Linked DNA regions of Homo sapiens: regions 1 and 3 are each linked to region 2. The links come from fine-mapping of genetic effects on plasma protein levels. A gene starts in region 2. Each other region holds a variant in brackets. All regions are shown on one strand. Distances are between the middles of the regions.

Region 1 (8,174 bases), 32 kb after region 2:
CTTGGGTCTAGGGGTTGAATGGGGAGCAGGGAGGGAGTCTTCTGCCCTAGGAACCAGAGGCTGGTAGGCCTGGAGCCTAAAGGGTTCCCGGGGGACGGGTCTTTGAGCAGGGACTTTGCAGATGGGCAGAGGGGCTGGCCTTGGAGGGTGGGTAGGGCTGGCTGCTTGGAGCCAGGGATCTGTGTGGTGCCTGGAAGCAGGGCGGTGCGGTGGGAAGCGAGCCAGGTGTAGGTTTATCCTCTCTGCCCCTCGATGGCTGTGTGGCTTTCAGAAGTCCTTCAACCAGGGGAAGCTGGGTTTCTTCACCTGCAGGGTGAGGGCAGCGCCCACGTCGCCTGTTCTAATGATCTGCTTGATAAATGTGCACTGTCATTATGAAGGAATGGTGGCATGTCATCTTCATTAGGCTTAGTGGTGCCTCTAAAGTGGGTTTTTCTTTCCGACCTTCTAGATTGCCAGCGTCCTGACGTCACAGAAGCCCTCTGTCCTCCTCACTTTGGTAAGTGGCTGGTGTCCAGGGGTGGGGCAGTGCTTGGCTCTGGGGAGGGTTTTTATGGGGGCCACCTCTCCTGCAGAGGTCGGGCCCATAGGGGAGGATTAAAAAACGGAGAGGGGTTGGGTCCAGGGGCTCACGCCTGTTATCCAAGTGCCTTGAGAGGCAAGGTGGGAGGATCGCTTGGAGCCAGGAGTTCCAGGCCAGCCTGGGCAACATGGCAAGACCCTGTCTTTACAACAAATTAAAAAGTTAGCCAGGCCTGGTGGCATGTGCTTGTGGTCCCAGCTACTTGGGAGGCTGAGGTGGGAGGCGTGCTTGAGCCCAGGAGTTTGAGGCTGCAGTGAGGTATGATCGCGCCACTGTGCTCCAGTCTGGGCCACAGACAGGACCCTGTCTCAAAAAAAGAAAAAAATAAACCAAGAGGAATGGTCATCAGTGATAAGTAGCGATACCTGCTCAGTCTGAATAGCTGTTTATGGGACCCCATCCTTGAGTCTCCCTGGGACCTGCTGTGTCCTGTCGTGAGGATGTGGGCCTGGCGCCACACCCACTCCTAAGGTTAAACCTGGCTAGAAGATGTATTTGTGTCAGGCTGAGCTCCTGGAATTTGTGGATGTAGAAAGTCAGTTTAATGGGTACCAAAATATAGCTAGGTAGAACAAATCAGATCTGGTATTTGATAGCACAACAGGGTGACTACAGTCAACAATAATTTATTGTACATTTAAAAATAACCAGAAGAGTGCAATTGGATTGTAACAGAAAGGATAAATGCTTGAGGTGATGGATAGCTCATGTATCCTGATGTGATTATTCCACATTGCATACCTGTATCAGAATATTTCAGGTACCCCATAAATGTATACACCTAATATCTACCCATGAAAACTAAAAATAAAAAATTTAAAAAGGAAAAAAGAAAGTTTATTCCCACCCTCTGTCTCCCCTGTTAAAGGGGTCTGAAAACCACACCACCGGGCGTCTGCCCTCAAGGTAGCAGGGGTGTGGGGCGCAGTGACTGACCGAGGGCCTGGGCTAGGGTGGGGGGTGCGAGGTGGGCTCTGGGTACGCCGGCAGGGTTTTGGGGGCACTTGAGCTGTGGTGTGCCCCCAAAGAATTCTCTGGAATTTCTCAGAGAAGTGTGCTTTCTTACACTTCTTTGAGCTTGGGAGTTTCATATAAGAGGCATGTCCACAAGCCTTCCCCCCAAAGTGACCCTTCCCTCTTGTCTTTTTTTTTTTTTTTTTTTGAAATGGAATATAAAAAGTAAAGTAGAGGTTTCTCTTCAAAGACTTTCCTCCCCGTCTAATTAGAAATAAACAGTAACTTCTCTTAGAAGCAAAATTTATTCAAAGACCTGTGCTAACATTCTTAAATATCTGCTAGCTGTAATAAAGAAATCAATATACTTTATGTTTTTAGCTCCCACAATTTAACCTAAATATTTGCCCTGATGTGCTTATACTGGTCCAAGCAAACATAAGGTCATAGCCTGTTCCTCTTCCTTATTTAAAAGTGTTTTTACCTTTCTCAGCATTCCACAAGTTACTTCCTCCTTCCTTTCTCCCCCTCTACCTTTGCCTCTTTTAAAAAGTTCTAAGTTGCTAGCCAATCGGGACAAATACAGAATGTGGGGTCCCGTTCCAGGCAGTGGAAACCGGACACAGCAGTAGGGTGGACACGCCAGGTTATAAACGACCCTGTCTCCTTTGTTTGGTGAACTCTCGTGGCAAAACTGCTGGAGAGTGTACCCTTTCTGCAGGAAGTGAAAATGGCCTTACTAAATAAATTAAATTTATGTTCAAGTGCTATTTCTTTATGGCACTGAAGAACAAACATTTCAAACATGGAGTTTTGCTCTTGTTGCCCGGCTAGAGTGCAGTGGAGCGATCTTGGCTCACCGCAGCCTCCACCTCCCGGGTTCAAGCAATTCTCCTGCCTCAGCCTCCTGAGTAGCTGGGATTACAGGCATGCACCACCACACCCAGCTAATATTGTGTTTTTTGTTAGAGACGGGGTTTCGCCATGTTGATCAGTCTCAAACTCCCAACCTCAGGTGATCTGCCCACCTCGGCCTCCCAAAGTGCTGGGATTACAGGCGTGAGCCACCGTGCCCAGCCTTTCTCTTTTCTTAATTGATTTTTACCAAAATAGTTATTTCCTTTAGCACTTGGCCCCTTTTTTTTGCTTTACTGTCTTGATGGCTATAAGGGAAACTTATGTGAGATGATTATGGTCATAGATGATCCAATGTGTTCAATTTAGATATACAATTAGACATCAAGCTGAAGTTCTGGGTAAAGAAATGGTGATTTAAAATGCCTTGCCCAGGCTGGGCATAGTGGCTCATGCCTGTAATCCCAGCACTTTGGAAGGCCGAGGTACGCGGATCACTTGAGGTCAAGAGTTCGAGACAAGCCTGGCCAACGTGGCAAAACCATGTCTCTACTAAAAATATAAAATTAGCTGGGCATGGTGGTGCGCACCTGTAATCCCAGCTACTCGAGAGGCTGAAGCAGGAGAATCACTTGAACTTGGGAGGTGGAGGCTGAGGTGAGCCGAGATGGTGCCACCACACTCCAGCCTGGGTGACAGAGCAAGACACTGTCTCAAAAAAAAATAAGTAAAATAAATGAAATAAAATGCCTTGCCTTTCTGGAGAGGGCCCATTTTTCTCCAAGTCCCTTGTTTTGTCTCCATTCCTGTCCAAGTCCCATTTGGAGTCTCCTTGGAGTTAAGAGAGGGATGTCTCCCTGCTTCACAGCAGTCCTGCCACAGTCAGGTCCTGCACACCTCCCCAGAAGGGCTGGGTTCGACAGGACTCTTTCGGATGTTATACAGTTAGTGGGGAGTGTGTGCAGGAGAGGGAAGATGGACCAGGCTGGGGAGAGCAGATTTATATTGGGAGTGGTCCCGGGTCCTCGCCTGTGCCTGGGCAGCCTGGCTGGTTTCAGCAGAGTGCTCTGACCTCCATGGAGAAGGCCTTGCTGTGCAGCTGGGATGCTGCAGAGTTTGGGGGGCCCCCACTTCCTCCACTTGGCAAGTGGTAGCAAAGAGGTCTGTCCTTGTGTTGGGGCCGGGCCTGGAGCTACCTGGCTGGGTGGCTCATCTGTTGGGGGAAGGCAGGAGGGGATCCTGTTCTTACCTGTCCTGAGCCTAGCTGGAGGCCTCAGGGGTGCAGGCTGTGGGGGCGCCATGCGGCCCCGTGTGTCATGTCTGTGTTCTCTCTCCCCAGCGTGGCGTCAACACGGACAGCGGCAGTGTCTGCAGGGAGGCCTCCTTTGACGGCATCAGCAAGTGAGTCCTGGGCCCCCAGGGACTCTTTCCCCACCATCCCCCACTCCCACCTTCACTAGCAGGTCTTTCCCGGTCTACAAATAAGACATGAACTATGCAAACTTCTTTTTAAGGAGTTTGGGCATTTTGAGGAAATGTTTAGAAGCATAATTTGCCAAAAATCACCTTGATTTTTCTTGAAGGAAAGGTGCCCCGTGTCTGTTTGCTCCATAAGGAAAGTGCTCAGGCAGCCCTGGCCAGGGCAGGGGCAGGGGCAAGGGCAGGGGCAGGCACAGGTGGGTTGTTTTCCCTCTAAACATCTGCTGTGAGCCCCTGTGGTCTGTGCATCAAGCCACCACCCCCTTTCTTTTATTTTTTTATTTTTTTTGAGATGGAGTCTTGCTCTGTCACCCAGGCTGGAGTGCAATGGCCCGATCTTGGCTCACTGCAACCTCCATCTCCCGGATTCAAGTGATTCTCCTGCCTCAGCCTCCTGAGTAGCTGGGATTACAGGCACCCGCCACTACACCCGGCTAATTTTTGTATTTTCAGTAGAGATGGGGTTTTGCCATGTTGGCCAGGCTTGTCTCGAACTCGTGACCTCAGGTCATCCACCCACCTCAGCTTCCCACACTGCTGGGATTACAGATGTGAGACACCGTGCCTGTCCCAAGCCCCCTCTCTTAGTCCCAGCCATTAACCCCTTCCAACCCGGCTCTCAGCAGCTCCCCTGTGTCCCCTGCTGTCCTAATCCCAGGCAGGATCCCTTTAACCTCTTCTCACTCTTAACCAAGCGCCAGGCTGAGCCTCCAAACCCTGCTTGGGAAGCGGTTCCCCTTTTCTCTCCAGGCAGGAGGACAGACCTTGGGCACAGGGAAAGACGCCCCTCCCCTGCTTGTCACCCCTCACCCACAGCCCCCGGGAGAGCCTGGAGAGGGCGGGAGAGCCCTGCCCACTGGATGTGCTTGGGTCCCTGGACTGGCTGGTGACTGGCCCTGGGGGTCTGTGGCCTGCATTGCTGGCTGATGCCATAGCAGACAAGGCCCCTGCGCTCGAGGCTGCTGCACGTGGACAGTGGGCAGCTCCCAGCCCCAACTTTGGGACCTGGATCCCCAGCCCCTCCCCTATCATGCATCCCCTACAGCCCCCATGTCTTCTGTTGTCCTCTGGTGGACCAAGGCAGTGATGGAGGAACCGCCTTATAATTATGTATGAGCCCAAGCTGCTGGAATCTCTGTGTGTGATGTAGGGGTGATGAGGGATTATGAGCTCATGAATATGTATCACCTCCCACCTCCCCCT[A/G]TGCTAAGAGCAGTGGGGCGGGTGGAGGGGCGGGTAGTAGGTTTGCTTTTTCACTGCACAGATCTTCGTGTCCTCCTGGGAGTTTCCCCAAAGCGGCCCCGCCTCCCACGCCTGGCAGCAATTAGCCCAGCTTGTTGAAATGCTGGCCATGGAGCTGCTCTCTCTCCCCAGGCCCCCAGGCCCTCAGAGGGGCTACGGGCACAGCCAGCTGCTGCCTGTCCCAGTCCCGGGACTCCCTGAATCCCCCCAGCACTACCTGGTGCTGGGTCTCCAGTGTCCTGCACACCTTTCCTCGACCATGCCATGGAACCTCTCTATGGCCTCTGTTTGGGTCTCTGCAGCAGGGGGACCCTCAGCTCCTCCACGTGTAACCTGGTGCTGCCTGGGCTTGTGGTGGGCACTGGAGGAGATCATGCTCACCTGGAGCCTGGCACAGAGCTGGTGCTCAGTGACAGTTGCCCGCATGCAAACCCCAGCAAATCCCATTGCTCCTCTGTGCCTCAGTCTCCCCATCTGCGTGGTGGGCCAGGTGGGCTCCAGGATCACCAATTCCCAGTTTCCCAGATGTCAGTGAGTCGAGGGCCTTCTCAGCGGTGAGAGCTTTGCTTGCTCCTCCTCTAGAGAGAATGCTGAGCCCCCCTGGACCACGTCTGGCAGCTGTGTGGTGGGTGTGGTTCCCAGCCAGGAGCTCAAGATGTGGCCTCTGAAGCAGAGCTCTGCCAGCTGCTCCTTGAGGTTCCCCGAGGAAGGCAGGTGGGGCCCTGGGCTTCCCCAGGGCCCTCATCACTGTCAGTGAGTGTCAGGAAGCAAAGGTCTCGTTCTACCCCCCAGGAGGATTCCTAGGTGTGACCTCTCATCCCAGTCTCTGTCACCTGTTGCCCCCCAGTCCCTGTGGCCTCTGCCAAGAGCCCAGAGGAGCCTGTGCTCTGCAAACTCCCCACCCCACCCTGTCACCACTGGGACACTTTTTGGAGAGCCAGGGACTGCCTTACTTTTGCACCATCTCCCCAGGCACCGGGCTGGTACCTCTCCAATCTCTGATCCAGGCCAGGCTGGGGCTGACTGGGGGGTGCTCACCCGGCCCCTCAGCTGGGGGCTGGGCTGAGACACTGCCCCCCACCCCGGGTGCTGGTGCGTCAGTTTCCGCACCTACGCCTTGGGCTGCTGGCCGAGTCTCTGACTTGGCTGTTGCAATGCGCAGCGGGTGAGAACCCTCGTGGCCATCTCTGGCCTGCTTGTTCTCCTCCCTCCCTTCCTTGTCCCCTGCAGGGGGCCATCCACCCATGTCTCTCCCCTCGGGGCCTTCCACCTCACTGCCACCAGGGCTGTTTCACTGAGGCAGGAGCTCTGGCTGGTGCCCCCTACCCTGCATGCCGTGGGCCTTGACATGGGGCCCCAGCCTTTGCCTCCAGCTGCTCCCAGCCGCTTCCCTGTGGACAGTCTTGTCTGCATTCCTGGGGTCCAGGTGCAGCTCATCCCCCTGCCTTCCACTCACCCAGGCTGCCAGCACTTTTGTGCCGGGCTGGGCAGAGACCACGTCCCCAAGAGCCGCTGCCGCTCAGCAACCGCATTCCCCTGCCTGCCGGGTGCACCTCCAGCTGCTAGCTGGGATATTAATAGCCTGTTTCCCAAGCAAGATGAATCTTGCTGTCGTCCTCCTCTCCAATACGCAGCTGCTTCCGCCCCAGTTGCCTCTCACTGCTCTGATGAAGCTGCTTGTTCCCGGCATTGTCCTTTTTGACCCTTTTAAATGTCTCTGCAGCACCTTGCACCTTGGGCTTCGATTGACCTCCTCCTCTAACAGAAGTTCAGGTTTGGCCTCTTGGTTTGACCTGATGGGCCCCCCCAGCTCCCCTTATCCCCTGGCCTGCAGGGAAGAGGAGCTTGTGGTAGACAGTGGTCCCCACCTGTCCACCCAGCCTATACCCTTGGGACCCTGGTCCAGCTGGATGGTTGGGCCAGGACCCCTCCAGGTGTGGCTACTCGGGGTGCCTGGCCTGGGGTCTGTCCCATTTGGGCTCAGCCTTGGTCTCAGACCTCCCTCCACCTCCCCAGATCAGGGCCAGGCCGCCTGCTGCCTGCAGTAAGAGTGTGTGGGGTCTCGAGGTGTGGGGACAGCAGAGGACAAGGAGCAGAGGGGACAGGGCAGAGGTGGGCTGAGGGTGGTGGGCATGCACACGGCCAGAGAGACCCTGTGGACTGAGGCCCCTGGGCTCACCCAGTGATGTGGCTCGGTGTGATGACAGTAGCGTGAAGGGTGTAGGCCGGGATGGTCTGTAGGGGCTTGTGAGTTTGGGGTCCGGCCCAGGCAGCAGTTCCGTGTGTGGCTTGATTGGAGCAGTCCCAAGGAAGATTTGGGAAGAGCAGGCTTTGCTGCGGGCTCTGGCAGGAGGGGTGGGTGTGGGCATGGGGTCGGGTGCTCATTGCCAGGTCCTGGCGGGGGCATGATGGGGGGTTGGTTTGGGGGCTAGTGGGGGCTGAGATGGGGAGGGGAACCCTGCAGCAAGAGACTTGAGACTTCTTCCTGCGGATGGCAAGATAGGCTCCCTGGAACACTTGGCTCCTGAAGGCTGGGAGCAAAGTCAGACATGGTAGATCTCTGAAAACATCTAAGGAGGTAGACGTTAGGGCAGGTTTTCCTGAGAGCAGGAGACTGACCATGAAGGAGAGATGGTCTGTTGGGGGATTGTTGGCAGGGGCTGGGTGGCCTGAGCTGAGGGATGCCTGTCCATCAAGTTTCCATGCCTTAACGAGGGTGCCTTCTTGGCACAAGGCAGTCGCCTCCCAGACAGACAGAAGCTGTACCCAGGAGCCCTGGGCCGGGGCAGCGAGTGACAGGGGCTCCGTTTCCTGCCATTGTATATGGTCAGTATTTTACATTTCTTACATCAGTGTAAGAAATACACTTATTCAGGCTAAGTGTATTTCTTATCTTTCGGCATTTACTTAGATCACCCTGCATATTTGAAGACAATTGGTAACGAATTGATTCCATTTAAGCAAGCAGTTAAAGATGAAATTCTGAATTTGGGGGTTGTTAATGCAGGAATATTAATATCCGAAGATGTGAATTTTAAAACCCAGGAAGTAGAGGGACATT
Region 2 (8,174 bases):
CTGTGAGGAGGGGGGTTGATGGATGGTGGTGACAGCTGGGGTGTAGGCCTGGAGGAAGGAGCAGGCCACACAGGCCTTTGGAGTGGGAGAGCTGTGGCTACCTCTGCAGGCCCTGCAAAGGCCCAAGGCTGGGATCTGCCAGAACCAGGATAGAGAGACGGTCTCCTGGGCATTCCACACCCATCACGCTCCTTGCTTTCCCACTTGGGAAGACACTGGGTTGCCATATGCCACCCTGCCCCTATCTCACACCCACAGTCCCCTCTATTCTTCCTCTTCTGTTTATTTGGTGCTGGCTTTCTGCATCCAGTCTTCTATTCTCAGCAAAAGCAAACAATCGCAAAACACCCAAATGCCATCTTGTGTAGGGCTTTGACCATCTGAGGCTGGCGGCCCCGTGCAGTGGCTTTATTGGCTCTTATTGGCTCTTTTCAGTTCTCTCTGCTAATCCTCCTGAGCTCCTGCTGGAGAGAGGGGTTTGGATCGGCAGCTTGCAGCTCAGAATCCCCCAGGATCTCCCCATTAGCCAAAAGCAGAACCCTCGAAGCCCCGTTCTGAGGCCCTCCCAGATGGTGGACTCCCCAGGGACAGTGTGGAGGGCTCCTCTACCTCTGTCCCCAGACCAAAGATCCTCTAGGCAAGGGCAGGGTCTGGATCCCTGGCCCTCACAGCATGGCCAGTCCTGGAGTGGCACTGTGGGCAACAACTGGGTGGTGCAGGGCAGAACCAGCATCCAGGCTACCTCCAGTGCAGTCCCACAGAGCCTCTGGTAGACCAGTGCCCTCAATCCACAGCAGAAGATGGACAGGGCTCTTCCCGGGGACCTCCCCTTCATGGCCCAAGGGTGGCTCATGAGTCAGAGCCTAGCAGGCCGCCACATCTGGGCCTGCCGTCTCCAGGCAGCCAGCTGTCAGCAGCGTCCACGGAGTTGCAAGAGTGGGGGCTAGATTGTGGGGAATGGGTGGAGGAGGGAAACCTGGCTGGACACAGTGTCCCGGGACACAAGAGGTGTCTTCCCAGGGTGAAGCTTCTTTTGCAAGGCCTGACGGGAGTTGGGGGGGCCCTTCTGGAGAATAATGCTATGCTGGCTACCGGGCTACCAGGCTGACCGAGTGCAGACATCTACCAGCCACCTGCAGGGCTTGACGAGAGGAGACTGTTTCGGCCACAAGGGCCTGTGACCTCGGAGGCAATGCCGCATGAGAGTGCTGCCTGGCGCGCTGCCTTGGCTGATTTACACACTCCCACTTCGACTCTCTAAAATCAATCTTCCCCCAATTGCCTCCTGGCTCCAGCAACGTCCTGGGTCTGCCCTGCATAAGTAACTAAATGGTCTTCTCCCATATTCTGGGCGGCTTCTGGAGCCCCTGCCACAGCCTCTGATGGGGAGGGGTGAGGGGTGAGGGGCAGCCCTGCCGGAGCCCCTGATGGGGAGGGGAGAGGGCAGGGGACCTGGGTGGGCAGGGGTCATGGGCAGTGCCTCCATATTACTGTCCACAAACAAGGGAGCTCCACTCAGTTGGTGGGTGCCTTCCTTCCATTATTTTGTGTTTGGGATATTGACTTCTTTTTCATATTAGTAAGCACTCAGAGCTGGCAGCTGGCTTAATTTTGACATATTTTATGTCAAAAGAAATGGTGGGAGGCAGGTGCAATGAATGAGCTGGGGGGTATGTTTTCCTTCCTTGAAGGCGCATGGAAAGCTCATTCTGCTCACCCTTTGTTATTATGTATTTTTTAAAGCGCCACTTACTAGGGAGTTGAGTTTCTTAAGCTGAAGGCGGACCTACTGCTTAACTAGGGGTGTTAGAAGTTCTCAGGGGCCCCTAGGCCAGGCAGTGGGGTGTGAATCCTTACCTCTGTTCTTCTTCCTGGAAACTGGCAAGAGGGTGGAGAGAGCTCCTCTTGGACCTTGCCTGGAGGTCAGGGACCCCTGCAAATTGTCCATGTGTTGTGGGAAGGGGTAGAAGGGATGAGGCCCCCCCTCTTCCATTAGCTCTCGTTTTCCTTATCTGGGACCGGGAGGTGGGAGGGGCTGTCTGGAGGGGCCACATTCCTCCTGGCAGCTTTGGTCTCTGGCTGTGCCTGCAGGTTTGAGTGTAAAACCCTCTAGCAGCCCTGTGAGGTGGCCCCATTAGCTCTCTCCTGACAGATGAGGACAGCAGGGATGGTACTGGGCTTCCAGGTAACTGTGCCACGTGCCCTTCACTACCCTGCTTATGGCTGGCTCCCTTGCTCCTATTTAAGGGGCCTATTCTCCTCCCTGCTTCATGGGGACAAACAGAAGCTGCTTCTCCAGTCATAGCCCCTGGCTCCCACCAGCCTGGCCATGGTGACCCACATCCTTGTTTCGATAAAGAAACAAGAAGCATCCCCCAACCCACAACCTTTGATCAGAAGCCACTTCCAGCTGTGGGACAGCTGCAGGGTGGGGTCAGGAGCCCCACACGCCTATCCTGGGCCACCCATCCACCTGTCCACACACATCTGTACACCACACACATCTGTACACCCTTGGCGCCAGGGACGCCCTCCCCCAACAGTGTGGGGCCCCCTTCCTTCACAGGGGCAGTGAGGTCACTCCTCAGGGTATGGCTTCATGAGCTCAGCCTCTGTGTGAGCACTCTCTGGCCTCAGTTTCCTCATCTGTATAATAGACTTAAAGATAGTCTCGACCTCATAGGGCTGTGGTGAGGTTTCTATGAGCTCACATGTGCAACGCATTTGGGCCGTGCTTGTAATGCCCTGACTCTGTTGGCAGTAGGGAGGGCAGCGTCTGCTGCAGGGTCCCTACACCTTCTCTGCAGGACTCTGCACCCAGTACCAGTGCCCAGTGGGGCAGAGGAGTAAGCCTTCTGGCAGACTCTCCCTCCTAAACCCTTCTCGGCTGTGCCCACTTCTCGCCTGCCCTCCTCCCTGGCTTCCCTTCCTCCAGCTTCTCCATTCTGCAGCCCAGGAAACCTAGAAAAGATCCTACCAGACTTAACTCATAGGCCCCACAGTGGAGGCCCCGCAGGGTCTGGCCCTTGCTTCCCTTAGGCTGCCCCTCTCTCGCGCACATTCTCCTGGACGCTGCACATTTAGAGTCCTCCAGTTGCCCCACGGCCTTTGCTCAAGCCCTTTCCCTTCTTAAACAAAAATCGCCACCTCTGCCCCGACCCTAGCCTGGGTCAGTCTCCCTCCTCTCCTCCCACGTGGTTTCTTTATTCCTATGTGTTCTTCTCCCGGGTGGGCTGGTACGCCAGATCGGGGACTGAACCAGAATCAAGATGTCCTCTGCTTCAGGACCTCCCTCCCACCACGAAAAGGCTGCAGATGCTGCCCGCTAACCCGACCTACTGTCTGCAGCCGGCAGCCCGCTCATTTATCCTGGCCGAGCTCTTGGGCCCCCAATCTCCGGGAGCCCCGCCCCATCGGGGCTCCGCCCTTCCCCAGGTACCGCCCCTTCCCGTCCCGTGGAATTTGGCTCTGGAGGAGGTGGGTCAAGGACTCCATGCCCCGCCCCCTGCCCCGCCCTTACCCCGCCCCATGCATTGGCACCCGGAGGGGCTCAGCTGACGCCGCACTTCACGTGACGCCGGTGCCGGGCGAACATGGCGGCGGCCACCGGGTGAGTGCTGCGCCTCCCTCGCTCTTTCCCGCTGGCGTGGAGAGGGGCATGGGTGTCCCGGCCGGACCGCGGGTGAGAGCGTCAGCCGGGGTCGCTGAATGCCGCGGGTAGGCGCCTCTTCCCGTTGGCCCGGAGTCCCAGCGCCGGTCGGCGAGCTGCACGCTCCGAGTCAGGGTCAGCGCGGGGGCCGCAGCTCCTCTCCACCCTCCTGGCTGGCTCCGGCCCCACCTGCCCGCGTCTGGCGGCCCCACCGTGTGCGGCTGCGGTGGGGGCTGGGGTCGACACGCATGTTCGCTGCCAAGACCCCCGGGTAGGAGGGCGGCGTTGCGAGGACCCCAGGGACCCGGGCGCTTCCCGGAGGAGGCGGTATTCGAGACGGACTTGGAATTCCCTTTTCCCAGCAGGGCACTTCCCCATTTCTTTCAGGGGCCAAATGTCACCCCCTCAGGGAATCCTTCTCTAACCATCTATCCCACTTTTTGTGCCCTCATCATCACCTGATAAACTATATAGAGCATTGTTTGTACTTGTTCTTTATCTTCTCTGCATTTAGAGTGCAAGGGCAGGTATGTTACCTGCTTCTCAGTAGCCCGGTGCCTTGCACACAGTAGGTGCTCCATACTGGGCTAAATGAAAGAAAGCTGAGTGGTCGTAGTGGGAGGAAGGGTGGACAGATGGGTTCACCAGAGCGTTGGGCGGAATCTCCCAGATAGGGAGCATCTGAGCCCAGGGTAAGGGACAAAGGTTGAGAGTTCAGAGTGTTCTGGGGACAGGGGTGCATGCCTGGGGCTGGTTGGAAGGTGTGGTGTTCCAGGTGGCGGCTTCAGACTTTGCCCTGATGGGCTGGAAGGGTTTTGTTACAAGCTGCTTGATCTGTTTTTTAAAGATTAGGCTCCCCTGAGCTATGTGTGAGTTCAATGGGAGAAGGTGTGGGTCTGGTGGTACAGTGGGGTAGAGGGGGCATGGTGTAGGAGGGAGCAGTATTCCAGATGCCAGGTTGGAAACTGAGGTCAGAATGGGGGATCTAGTGGACTGAATGCATCTCTCTTTTTAAGATACAGGGAAAATGGCAACAGAAAGTGGGTTCTAAGTTGGCCCCCAAGGTTGAGGGAGCTTAGAGCATACAAATCAAATATTTTGTGGGCACCTGCTATATTCCAGGAATAGCAGTGGGTCTTCCCTTAAGGTACTCACAGGCCACTGGAACAGATGGACACATGGGACTCTGTCATCCATCTGCTTGCCGTGTGGTCTTGCCATTTGCAAAGGAGGGGCATGGACTCTGAGCTCAGATAAAGTGTGGGAAGGCTTCACTTCCTGGGTGACTTTTGTGCTAGTCCTTCAGCAATGAGACTCCCTTCAGGTAGAGAACAGTGCAGACAAAGTCTCAGATGGGTGTCAAGGAACTCAGGGTCAGATCCTTGAATCCAGCCTGTGACCCTTTTAAAGGGTAGACTGAGCAGGCTGGTGCCCAGCTGTGGGTGTGCTGTCTCTCTGGTTAGGCTGGCTCGGTGCTCACAGGGAGTGCCAGGGGTTGCATTTGGGTTCAGGATTCCAAGCTGGCCTGAGACCTGCTGCTCTCCTGAAGGAACCAAGCTGATGTCTGGACGGGAGCAAGTCTGGAACTGACTGGATCCTGGAATGAGAGCTTTTCTTTTTCTCTTTCTTTTTTTTTTTTTGAGACGTAGTTTTGCTCTTGTTGCCCAGTCTGGAGTGCAATGGCATGATGGCTCACTGCAACCTCCACCTCCCAGGTTCAAGCGAGTCTTCTGCCTCAGCCTCCTGAGTAGCTGGAATTACAGGCGTGTGCCACCACACTCAGCTAATTTTTTGTATTTTTAGTGGAGATGGGGTTTCACCATGTTGGCCAGACTGGTCTCGAACTCCTGACCTCAGGTGATCCACCCGCCTCCGCCTCCCAAAGTGCTAGGATTACAGGTGTGAGCCACCACGCCTGGCCCCAGAATGAGAGCTTTTCTAGCAGAACCGATTCTCTGGGCCACCACACAGGGTGGGTGAGGGAGGCAAAACAGAGTGGCAGGTCTTAGAGAGGTCTGCTATTGAGAGGGTGTGGGAGCTTCCAGAGCCTGGCAGTCTCCTTGGGAAGAGCCATCCCAGTCTGGTATGGGGCTTTCCCATGTACTTTGAGCCTGAGGTTGACCCCAGTGGCTTCCTTTAGAGCAGAATGATTAAGTGTGTTTCCCGCAAAGCTCAGCTCCTAGCCACACTCACAGAACAGATCATAGAGTCAGGCATAACGAGGCATGATGCCAGCAAGTCACGGCCATTGCCGTGGGCTCACTGGGAGTTGGGTTTGGTTGTCTGTAGAATCCTACCAGAGCCTGGGACAGAGGGGGTCCATGAGAGTTCCAGGTGACTGGGGTGTGCCCCATATGATTTGGGGAGTAGGGGAAGCCCTAAACTAGCATCTCAGATTTAATTTGAAACTCAAGAATCTACTCTGAATGCATCTCTCTTTTTAAGATGTGGGGTGTTTCAGGGTTGATCCTACTTTCTCTTGCTAGCCTGGGTGTAGGCTTCAGGTTGAGACAGAGTGCGCTGAGGTCACCTCCCATCCCCTCATGGAGAGGGGTCCCTATCCCATGGCACTTGGTGGCACTGCTGCTGTCTCCTTAAGCAATGCTTTGAGCTTTCCACAGACAGGATTGATAATTTGAAATCTGTCAGCTCCAGCCAGACCTGTCTGCATCTGCTCTCCCACATGGCTTTTTCCATTCCCTTCTTCCCTTGCACACTCACCCAACTAGCCCTGGAATGTTCTTGTCCTCTATATGATTCTTCACGTATTTGCAGGCCCAGCTCAGATGGTTCCCTTTCCCAGAAGCCTTTCCCAGCCCTCGGGTAAAGGTTTAGTGCTCAGAACTCCAGAACACTCAGTTTTCTCCCCAGCAGTACACTTTTACACGTCTGCCCATTGTGGGTTAGGAGTTGCTTCCCTTCATGCCTCTCCTAGCATCCTTAGAACCCCTGGGGTTCTTTTGTATCCGCAGGGCCAGTCTGTGGCTGCCCTGTGATTGGTGCTTGGTGAAATGAATGAAAAGGGGATTTACTCTAAATTAGTCCAGCATCCCATCCTGCTTTCCTGGGAGACTCCCAGTGATTGAGGGAAGGAGTCATGGTGGGGAATGGGGACAGAATTCCGAGGGGTAGGATGAAGAAATAGCCTTAATTCTTTAACTGAGTGGCTCCCAGGAGCTGTTGCAGAGCCAAAAAGAGGCAAAGGTGAACTGCCCTGGACGTGTACCCCTGTTGAGCCGTAGGTTACACTGGAGTCAGCATTCTTCTGGAGAGTCTTCTGCAGAATTCACATTCTGGGTCAAGAGCCCAACCCCACAATGTGAACCTTGTGCTCCAGGAGCAGAAGACTCAGGCCGACTGGGGGCTAGGGACGGGTGGGCCTATGGGAGGCAGGCTGGCCACTGAGTATCCCTGTGCCTTCCCTGGCTCTTCCCCAGGTCCTGACTCCACACAGCTGTCTCTTGGTTTCTGTGTATGCTTGGCACCCCTATCCGCCCCAGGAGACAGAGGTGCAAGGTGGAGGTTGCTGGCCAGTTGCCTCGAGGTCCTGTTCCGCCGTGGCAACCCTCTCCAGCCTGGCGCTTACGGTCTGGTGCCCAGTGGGCTGCCTGAGCATCTGTCTGGTGCCTGGCCCCACGCTGGAGGCTGAGGGGAGGAGGTGGCTGGTCCTTGGCTGGCCTCTCCTACTGGGAACTTAGCGGTGTGACCCTGTCTAGAAGTGGCTCCACATTTCATTTTTTTTTTTTTTTTGAGAGGGAGTCTCACACTGGAGTGCAATGGCGCGATCTCGGCTCACTGCAACCTCCGCCTCCCGGGTTCAAGTGGTTCTCCTGCCTCAGCCTCCCGAGTAGCTGGGATTACAGGTGCCCACTACCATGCCTGGCTAATTTTTTTGTATTTTTAATAGGGATGGGGTTTCATTATGTTGGCCAGGCTGGTCTCAAACTCCTGACCTCGTGACCCACCCACTTCAGCCTCCCCAAGTGCTGGTATTACAGGCGTGAGCCACCGCACCTGGCCAGTGGCTCCACATTCTAGTGCAGAGATCTTTCCTTGTCTGTGCGGTAGACCCCACGGGCATCAGTGAAACCTACGTACCATTCTCGGCATCAGGTTTTTTTTTGTTTTTTGTTTTTTGTTTTTTTTGAAACGGAGTCTTGCTCTTTCACCCAGGCTGGAGTGCGGTGGCTTGATCTTGGCTCACTGCAACCTCCGCCTCCCAGATTCAAGTGATTTTCCTGCCTCAGCCTCCCGAGTGGCTGGGATTATAGGTGTGTGCCACTATGCCCAGCTAATTTTTGTATTTTTAGTAGACACAGGGGCTCACCATGTTGGCCAGGTGGTATCGAACTCCTGACCTCAGGTGATCTGCCCATGTCGGCCTCCTAAAATGTTGGGATTATAGGCATGAGCCACCACACCTGGCTGGCATAATGTTTTTAAATGTATGAAATAAGTACATAATATTACAAAAGTAAAACCCAATTATATGGAAATACAGGTATCAAAATGTTACATAAATTTG
Region 3 (8,166 bases), 110 kb after region 2:
TGAAGGAGGGAGCATGGCCTGCCCACTGCAGAGGGGCTGCTTGGCGTCCCCTCCCTCCTGTCCCCAGCTGGTCAGCACAGCAGCTAAGCACAGGAAGGCCACTCCTCCACACGGGCACACACACAGCATGTGGGGACCGGGCTGTGAGCTCAGGCTGGGCAGCTTCTGTGTGCAGCAGGGGTGGAGTGTGGAAGGGTCAGTGCAGAAAGTGGTGGTGGTGTGTCTATGTGGGTGTGGCTGCGTGGGGACCAGTGCTGCTGTATGTGGGTGTGCATGTCACTGTTGGTGTGCCTGCTCGTGGCACATGGTGCCGAGGGGCAGGGCTCTGTGTGGGTGTGTGCGCTTGGGTGTGTGCCATCAACACCTGGCTGGGTGTGCTTGGAGGCACACACATGGTAGAAATGACAGTGATATGGGATCATTGCCATGCTGTGTGGGCCATGCACAGCGGCATGTGTCCCTTGGGGTGTGTCTGCCCCCACATGCGTCCTGGCTGTGGGCGTGGCCCCCTCGTCTCCTGCGCTCTCCCAGCCAGTCTCCCTGCTCTCTGCCCCTCGGGTCTGGCCCCTGCCCGGCCAGGATGGAGCCAGGCAGCTCTGCCAATG[C/T]GCACGTCCCCGGCACATGAATAATACATGTGAAATCTCAGTCCTTGGAAATGTTCTTCTCTGGTGGATGGAGAGAAAACCATTATTTCTACTTTTATGATTCCCAAGACTCCTGAGCAGGGCCATAAATATTACACCCAGGTGGGGGTTTCCTTCCCCCCTTTGGACAGACTTAAAAGTCCTTTTTTTCTTAAAGGCATCGCTCATTAGGGAAGCCTTCTCAGGCAGAGGAGCGAGGATCCTCTTGGTTTCCTCTCTCTCCAGCCTGGTCAGGACGCCAGGGCAGCTCCAGGACAGCCGGGGCCCTTTCCATAGAGGCCCTCTCCCCTTTGGCCACCAGGAAAGGAGGGGTTCCGTAGGGCCCTTCTCCAGGCCCAGGAACTGCTGTTCCCCTTTTTTGCTCTTTTTTTAATTTAAAGACAGGGTCTCCCTCTTTTGCCCAGGCTGGAGTGCGGTGGCATGATCATAGCTCATTGCAGTCTCCACTTCCCAGGCTCAGGTGATCCTCCTAGCTCAGCCTCCTGAGTAACTGGGATTACAGCTGTGAGCCACCTAACCCAGCTAATTTTTTTTGCATTTTCTGTAGAGGTAGGGTTTCGCCATGTTGCCCAGGCTGGTCTCGAACTTGTGGGCTCAAGTGATCTGCCTTTCTTGGCCTCCCAAAGTGCTGGCATGACAGGCGTGAGCCACCACACCCGGCCCATTGCTAAGTTTTACATGTGTTCCACATGATGCCCACATCCCAGCCCAGAGGGCAGCCGCCTAACGACGCCTTCAGCCAGGAGGCTCTGCCTGCAGACTGAGGCTGGTTGCCAGCCATGTGACTGCGGGGTGACAGGGCCACCATGTCCCCCGGCCTTACCTCTGGCTGTGGACCTGGTCCAGCCACGCCTGGGCCTGTGCTGGAGGTGGGGACAGTGCTGCTCATGGGCAGGGGATCGAGCATCCACCCCCTCCTTCAGAGCCTGCTGCAGAAGAATGGGCTTTGATCACCCTCCCCCGGCTCTTTGCAGTGGTGAGAACTCAGCCGTGCTACACTACGGACACGCCGGAGCTCCCAACGACCGAACGATCCAGAATGGGGATATGTGGTAAGTAGGGCCAGCGGCCCTGGCTCTGTGTGTGAACAGCCAGGCCAAGGTTGGACTCAACTTCAAGATGGCCCAGAAGCCTCTGGGTCCCTGTCCTGAGAGGGCTGACCACAGCAAGTCCCTGGGCTTCTTGGCCCAGACTTCTCTGCCAAGGCTATCGGCCTGCGTGGTGCCTTCTCCAGGGCCAAAAGCCTGCACCCCCCAGGGAGCACTGAGAGAGAGGGTGCAGGAGAGGGGCCCCCGATGGTTTCCTGTGGGCCATGGGATTGTGGGCTCTCTGAGGGGGCCTGAACCATCCCCAGCCTCTGTCCAGGCTGTCCTCTCCGTTCAGGGGGCACCACGCTCGCATCTTTCTGTCTTGGTGCCAGGAGGGCAGGCCTCTTGGTCTGGAGCTGGGAAGACCGCAGGGAGCCTCCCACGCTCTGAAACCTGCCATCCTCCTGCTGCAGGAGCCCGTGGCCTCTGCGGCCCTGCGTTCAGCAAGTCAGCAGTGCTGACCCGTGGCTGCGTGCAGGGCTTTCCTGAGCACGATGTGCCGTGCTCACAGTTCTTCATAGAAGCCACGACAAGGAGATGTGGGCAGGCCCTGCGGCCTCCGCCCCTCGGGTAGTCTTTTCTCTCATTGGAGGACTTGCAGTCCTACCCACAGCCCCTCGGTGTGCAGGGCAGAGCAGCTGGGCCGCTGCCCCGGGGCAGGGAGGAGGTGTGTGAGTACTTGCAGCCTGGCCTCTGCTCAGTCCCTCCGCGTTCTTTGCCTGTGCCCTGCACGTCAGATGTCAGCCAGGGCCAGCCCAGGCAGTGCAGAGCTCCTGAGAGCTACCCCAGTGCTGGAGCCCTGGGGCTCAGCCACAGCCACGCAGGCCCTGTCTTGGCCTCCAGACATTTCACTGTGGTCACTGACTAGCAGAGGATGTGCCTTGTCCCTCCCAGTTCTTTGGTGCCCTTTCTTCTATGGCAGATGCACCCGAACAAGCCTCCTGCAGAGCCCTCTGCCCCCCAGCAGCATGGCATGTCCTCTGAGGCCTGCGTGGCGCCCAGCTGGGCTGCCTCCGCCTTCCCATCGAGGAGCCACCCCAATGTGCCAGCTCCTCCAGCGGGAGTTCCCATGATGGCTGCTCACCGGCCTGGACCCCGCCTCACCCTACAGCAGGTAGTCGTGGGAGCCCACCCCCCAGAGTCCCCAGCCATGCCCACTGAAGGACAGGAACACACATGCCCAGACCTATGGACAGACAACCAGCTGCCCAGAGAGCTGCCGAGCGTTGAGCTGTCAGGGCCGAGTATTTGCAGGAACACACTCAGTCTCGGGGTCCTCCCTGCCCTTGGGCACATGGCCTACTGAGACTGCCCGGGCTCCCCGCTCACCCAGGTCCATAGCTGATGAGCTGTTCCAGCTCAGGCCATGCTGGCAGGAGCTCAGCTCAGACCTTGGGTGGGGCCAGCATATGCCGCCACAGTAGGGCTGTGTTAGGAACACGGCAGGTTGAGGGTGCAAGCGGAGGCAGGCCAGTGGAACCGCCACCCACTGCGCGCTGGGCCTTAGTGGACTCCCTGGCCTACCCGACAGCACTGGCTCCACGGATCCTGGTTCACTCTGGCACCACAGTGAGCCCCACAAATGGTGGGCGAGTCCCCAGTCCCCCCTGCGTAGCCACCGTGCTCGGGGCTGGGAGGGTCAGAGCGGAGCTCAGCTTTCCTCCTACATGCCTGGGGCCACAAGGTGACTGGGCCCTTCTTCTGGGTCTCTGTGGATTTTCTCACCCACTCCTCGCCCTGATCCTGCGATGTAGGCACCTCACCCCATGTGTGGGCCAAGGAACTCAGACACAAGGAGGGCACCAGGCCCAGGTGTGAGGCCAGAGGCACTTGGGGAAAGAATTGGCAAACTCAGACTTGGCTCAGCAGGGGACTAGAGCAGGAGAGGGGGTGGCAGCCCTGCCCCCACACCGTGGACCCACCAGTGGCTCCAGACACCACCTGGTGTCCTGAAACTTTTTAAGAGACGGTCTTGCTCTGTCTCCCAGGCTAGAGTGCAGTGGCACAATCATAGCTCACTGCAGCCTCAAACTCCTAGGCTTAAGAGATCCTCCCACCTCAGCCTCCCGAGTAGCTGAGACTACAGGTACAAGCCACCATGCCCAGCTAATTTTTTTATTTTTAATATTAAAAAGACAGGGTCTCACCATGTTGCCCAGGCTGGTCTGGAATTCCTGGACTTAAGTGATCCTCTTGCCTCGGCCTCCCAAAAGTGCTGGGATTACAGATGTGAGCCACGGTGCCCAGCCCTGAAACCTTTTCTAAAGCTCTTTAACCCTGTAGCGCATTCTGGCTGGGCCTGGAGGACAGGACATGGGAACCCAGTCTCACGGCAGAGGCCACATCAGTGGGTCCCCACAGTCCAGGGGGCACTTCTGGGTGGCTGGAGAGCCCTGTGCCAGAGCCACGTGGCCATGAGCTTTTCTCCTCTGTGGGCTCAGCACACCCCAGAAGAAGTGACTGCTCCTTTATGACCCTCTTTATCTGCCCCGGAGAGGGTCCTGGCATAATCCCAGATGCTGTGGCCTCGGCCCTCCGGGACAGCACATGGCACCTGCATCTCCCAGCTGCAGCTGTAGAGGCAGGAGTGATCCGAGGATGTTAATGCCAAGTCCAAATTGGTGATTTGATTTTTCTAGTGCTAACTTTGAAATGTAGCCAGTAGAGTAATTATGAGTTTATTGTAGTCAATTTATTATGCAGCATTTAGAACAACATGTTTTGTTGATTACTGCTACTGCCAGATTGCTGGTGGCATTTATAGTCCATTGTTGTATTGAAATTGATCTGCCGAGCGCCTACTGCGTTCGGTAAATAATAAATCAGTCTGTTATCCCAACATGAAAGCCACGATGCTTCATCCTAAGGTATGAAACTAAAGCATGAGCCCAGCGTAGAATTCCCCCGAAGCCGAGCGCCTCCCAGAGCAGTGCGCCTGCTGCAATGGCCTGCTCTGGGTTTTAGTCCTTTGACTGGGGGAAGACACCCCAGAGATATTTTAGCTTCTAGGAATGGGATTTTGTGGGGAATCAGAGCTGGTCCAGGGCAGCCAGATTATACAGCTGTACTGCAGAAGGGTGGGGGGTACTAAGAGGAGGCCAGCCTTTTCCATCCCTCTCTCCACAGTCCCAGATATGAGCACTCCCCCAACACGCACACACATGGATACACACACAGGGAACTGACCGAGGCTGTGCTGCGTTGCAATGATCACAGTGTAAGCCCCTGCCTCCCTCTCTCGCAGTGGCCACCTGGCACAGCGTGGGCCCTCTTCGGGCAAGAGCAGCAGGCCCGGTGTCCTCACCGAGCTGGGCAGGCCAGGCCCTGATGCCCACTTCCAGCAGCTGGTTCTGCAGCACAGGCTGGAGGTGGGAGCCACAGGCAGAGCTCAGGCCAGGCCTGGTTTATTCTCAGACAGCTCCCGTCCCCTGGTTGTCCTGTTCCGTGTCTTCGACCCAAAAGTGTCCTCCATGATGCGTACATCAAGCGGGGTTTGGGGCTGGCTAGGCCCCCCTCCTACTGCTCCGTCCTTACCCTTCCAGCAGCTTCCCTGGAGCTAGGCTGAGTCCACTGTTGGCCACAGTCATGGTCCAAGAGGGCCTATGAACCAGACACCCTGGTTCCTGCTTCAGGTCAGGCTTGTCAGCCAAGGACTGAGACAGACTTCCTGAGGGCCGTCCCTCACCCCCAGCCAGCCACCCCCGGGCCCCTTCCCGCTTCTCTGGGTGTGATGCCACCACACCCACTCGCATGCACGCAGGGGTGAGGGACGGGACTTTGTGGTGGCTGCATACACCCTCAGCCTGGTTCAGAGCCAAGCGGCCCCATGTGGGGCCTGTAGCCGTCAAGCCTCCGGGGGTTTTGCTGTTGTTCTCAGAGTCTTTTCCCGCTGTGATCCTGGGGTTCGCCATGAACCCCATCTCCAAGTCACTGTACCAGAGGGGCCATTCGCTGCTTTTTTTGTTTTCCTTTTTAAACCCCTCAGGCAGACCTTCAAGAACAGGGTTACAAAAGCGCAGCACACTTGCTAATTAACACTTTCAACATGTTCACACAGATTGAGGTGCCTGAGATCACTGGAGGCCATTCCTAAGTGGGAGGCCCCAGAAGACCCCTCCCCACTCACTCCAGCCCCGAACAGGTTTGTGTGAGCACAGAGGTGGCCAGGACTCATCCCCCTGCTTCTCCTGGTCGTCTTCTGAGCCCCCATGTGCTGCCCCCTCCTTCCACAAACAGCCTGGGCTGTGGGCACCAGAGCCACTGCAGGCCAGCAAGCTTCGCAGCTAGGGCAGGGGGCGCATGGTCCACGATTCTGGGAAGCAGTGCGCCCAGAGAGGGACCATCCCTTGCAGCACTCCGGGCCTGAGGCCGCCCCAGGTCCTGGAGAGGCTCACCCCACAGGGCAGAGGTGGAGGGCTCTGGTTGGGAAAGCAGCTGGGACACTCCTCCTGCCTCCCTCACTTCCCGATCAGGTGGTGGGGGTTGGAGGGGGGCCTTAATCTACTGTGGCCCCTCGCAGAGTTTCTAGAGCACGTGTCCCAGGATGCCCCAGGCCTTGGTTGTCCCAGTCGGGATGCAGCTGGTGGGCAGCAAGCCTGTCCTTCCAGAACTGGCCAGAAGAGGGCAGTGTTGTCTCAGGACGATGGGCCAGGCCTCACCCCTGCTGGGCCTGGTCTTTTGTGTTGCTCCTGGGCATGGGGGGTGGGTGGCCAGCCTGGCTAGGAGGAGAGACCTGTCCCAGCCCTCACACTCAGCAGCCACCAGTGCCCTCTTCCCCTCCTTCCCTGGCTAGATAATGGCGAGACCTCGACCCTGCAGGCCATGGGGTGCCCGCTCACCCAGGACCTCAGCAGCCACCTTGGCCTCACATGGGCCCTGCAGCCTGGGATGCGGCCAGCCTACTCCTGCTGTCTACTCAGCCTGAGTCTGTCTGCCACCATCGCGCTGCGGACCCCATGGGTGACAAGCTCCTGGGGACCCCCTTGCCCCACTCCACCTGGGGCCCAATGCTTTGGTGAGCTCCAGGGTAGAGCGTTGCCCCCAGGCCTGCTCTCTGCTGCCTGTCCCAGCCCAGCTCTCCCCCACCACCTTGCTGTTTCCTCCGAGGGAGACTTGTTGTCACCAGCCAGCCCTGCCCTGAGCACTCTGCGGTCTTAAAGACATGCTCTTGGGGCCACAGAACGCCCTCAGGAGGGTCCAGACCCACAGGCATGGCCGTCCCATCCCATCCCAGTTAGGAGCGTGCTCTCCATTCTCACCCGTCCTCATACACATGGACAGGCCTGGTTATGAGCAGACACCTGCCCACGCGTTTTCGGTTTGTCTCTTGTTTGTGCTTCGTGGCTGCACCCTCCTCAGCTGATGTCATGACCCACAGTTTGAACAGCACTTGTCCAGACATCCTGGGTGCTCCCAGACATCATGAGACACTGGTCACCAAAAAAAGCAAAATACAGCATGTGCTGCGCGTGTGACTCTCCCTCCCGCCTGCCAAGGCCACTGCCCTGACGCCCGGGCCTCACCCCACTGTGCTTTCCTGGCAGCTGTCCTTGTGTCTCACCCACCTCTGGACGAGGCACCCCACAGTGCTCTTCTGGGACCCGGGGCCCCTCACTGGTGCCGTGCCTCTGTCCATGTCATGCATAAAATGGCAATGCCAGTTCCCTCCAGACACCCAGGAGGCCCACAGGACGCAGCTGCTCCCGTCACCCACCGCGTGCACCAGGGATTGCTGGCTCTGGGGACCAGAAGCTGCTGCTGTCATGGGCTGGCGGCATGGGCAGCTTTCCTGTCTGCCGAGGCCCTGGAGGAGTGGCCGTCACACGAAAAGGGGGCAGAGATGCCCAGGAACGCACTGGAGAGAGGTCCCCTTGGTGGGTTAGGCCATGGCACGGGGAGCCTCAGGGACTCCGAGTGGTGGCCTTTGTCCCTGCTGGCCACGCTTGGAGCTTGGCACTCCACGGAAGGCCTGGCTGGGAGCAGGCAGCCGGCCCATGCACCCTGGAGACCACAGCTCGCCACCGTGTCTGCAGGGGCCGCCCACTGGGGCAGATGAAGGGAAGAGTGACCCATACGCCTCCCTTTCGGTCTCACACTGAGGAGAAGCAAGTGCTTCCTGCTGCTCAGCAATCCCCCAGCCTGGCCTGGGACACTGACCAGGGCAGCTGCACATCGGAGTCTGCAGTGCTTCTGCAGCCCCGAATATGAGCGCGTGTAAACTGTTGGATTGAACAGCTAAGAGCCGTGCCACTACTCAGGAGATTCAAATGAAACTGCAAACCAAGTCCAAAGTGGCTCTCATATAAACATTGCAGCATTTCCCCCAGAAAACTGTTCCCAAGCCTTCCGTCACTGGCCGACCCATCTTGGAGGCCTTCTGCCTCTGGGCTGGCGGGTCCCTGCCATGGGGCCCAGGGAGGGTCTGGGTGGGCCAG

The links. PIP is the posterior inclusion probability: the model's chance that the variant is causal. The UK Biobank Pharma Proteomics Project read protein levels with antibody pairs (Olink). The fine-mapping took linkage between variants from a reference panel, not from the people measured, so its PIPs are less certain.
Region 1: its variant is fine-mapped to the plasma level of the PEPD protein (UK Biobank, PIP above 0.99).
Region 3: its variant is fine-mapped to the plasma level of the PEPD protein (UK Biobank, PIP above 0.99).

What each region holds. Positions count from the first base shown.
Region 1 is chr19:33,485,615-33,493,788 of GRCh38, reverse strand. It overlaps PEPD (peptidase D), which reads left to right. Exons shown (of 15, transcript NM_000285.4): 5 at 452-499; 6 at 3,732-3,793. Among named protein-coding and RNA genes, the nearest start is that of PEPD, 32 kb to the left of the region's middle. RefSeq lists enhancers at 5,117-5,976, 5,977-6,836, 6,837-7,697. The variant A/G (reference allele first, on the strand shown) is at 5,075.
Region 2 is chr19:33,517,180-33,525,353 of GRCh38, reverse strand. It overlaps PEPD (peptidase D), which reads left to right and starts at 3,563. Exons shown (of 15, transcript NM_000285.4): 1 at 3,563-3,610. The coding sequence starts at 3,594. LOC105372370 (a long non-coding RNA gene) reads right to left here and starts at 3,420. Exons shown (of 3, transcript XR_935918.3): 1 at 3,340-3,420; 2 at 1,858-1,933. RefSeq lists enhancers at 2,336-3,298, 3,299-4,262 and a silencer at 3,354-3,553.
Region 3 is chr19:33,405,202-33,413,367 of GRCh38, reverse strand. PEPD (peptidase D) reads left to right here. Exons shown (of 15, transcript NM_000285.4): 11 at 1,619-1,696. LOC124904692 (a long non-coding RNA gene) reads right to left here. Exons shown (of 2, transcript XR_007067229.1): 2 at 4,403-8,166. Among named protein-coding and RNA genes, the nearest start is that of CEBPG, 36 kb to the right of the region's middle. RefSeq lists an enhancer at 6,111-6,668. The variant C/T (reference allele first, on the strand shown) is at 606.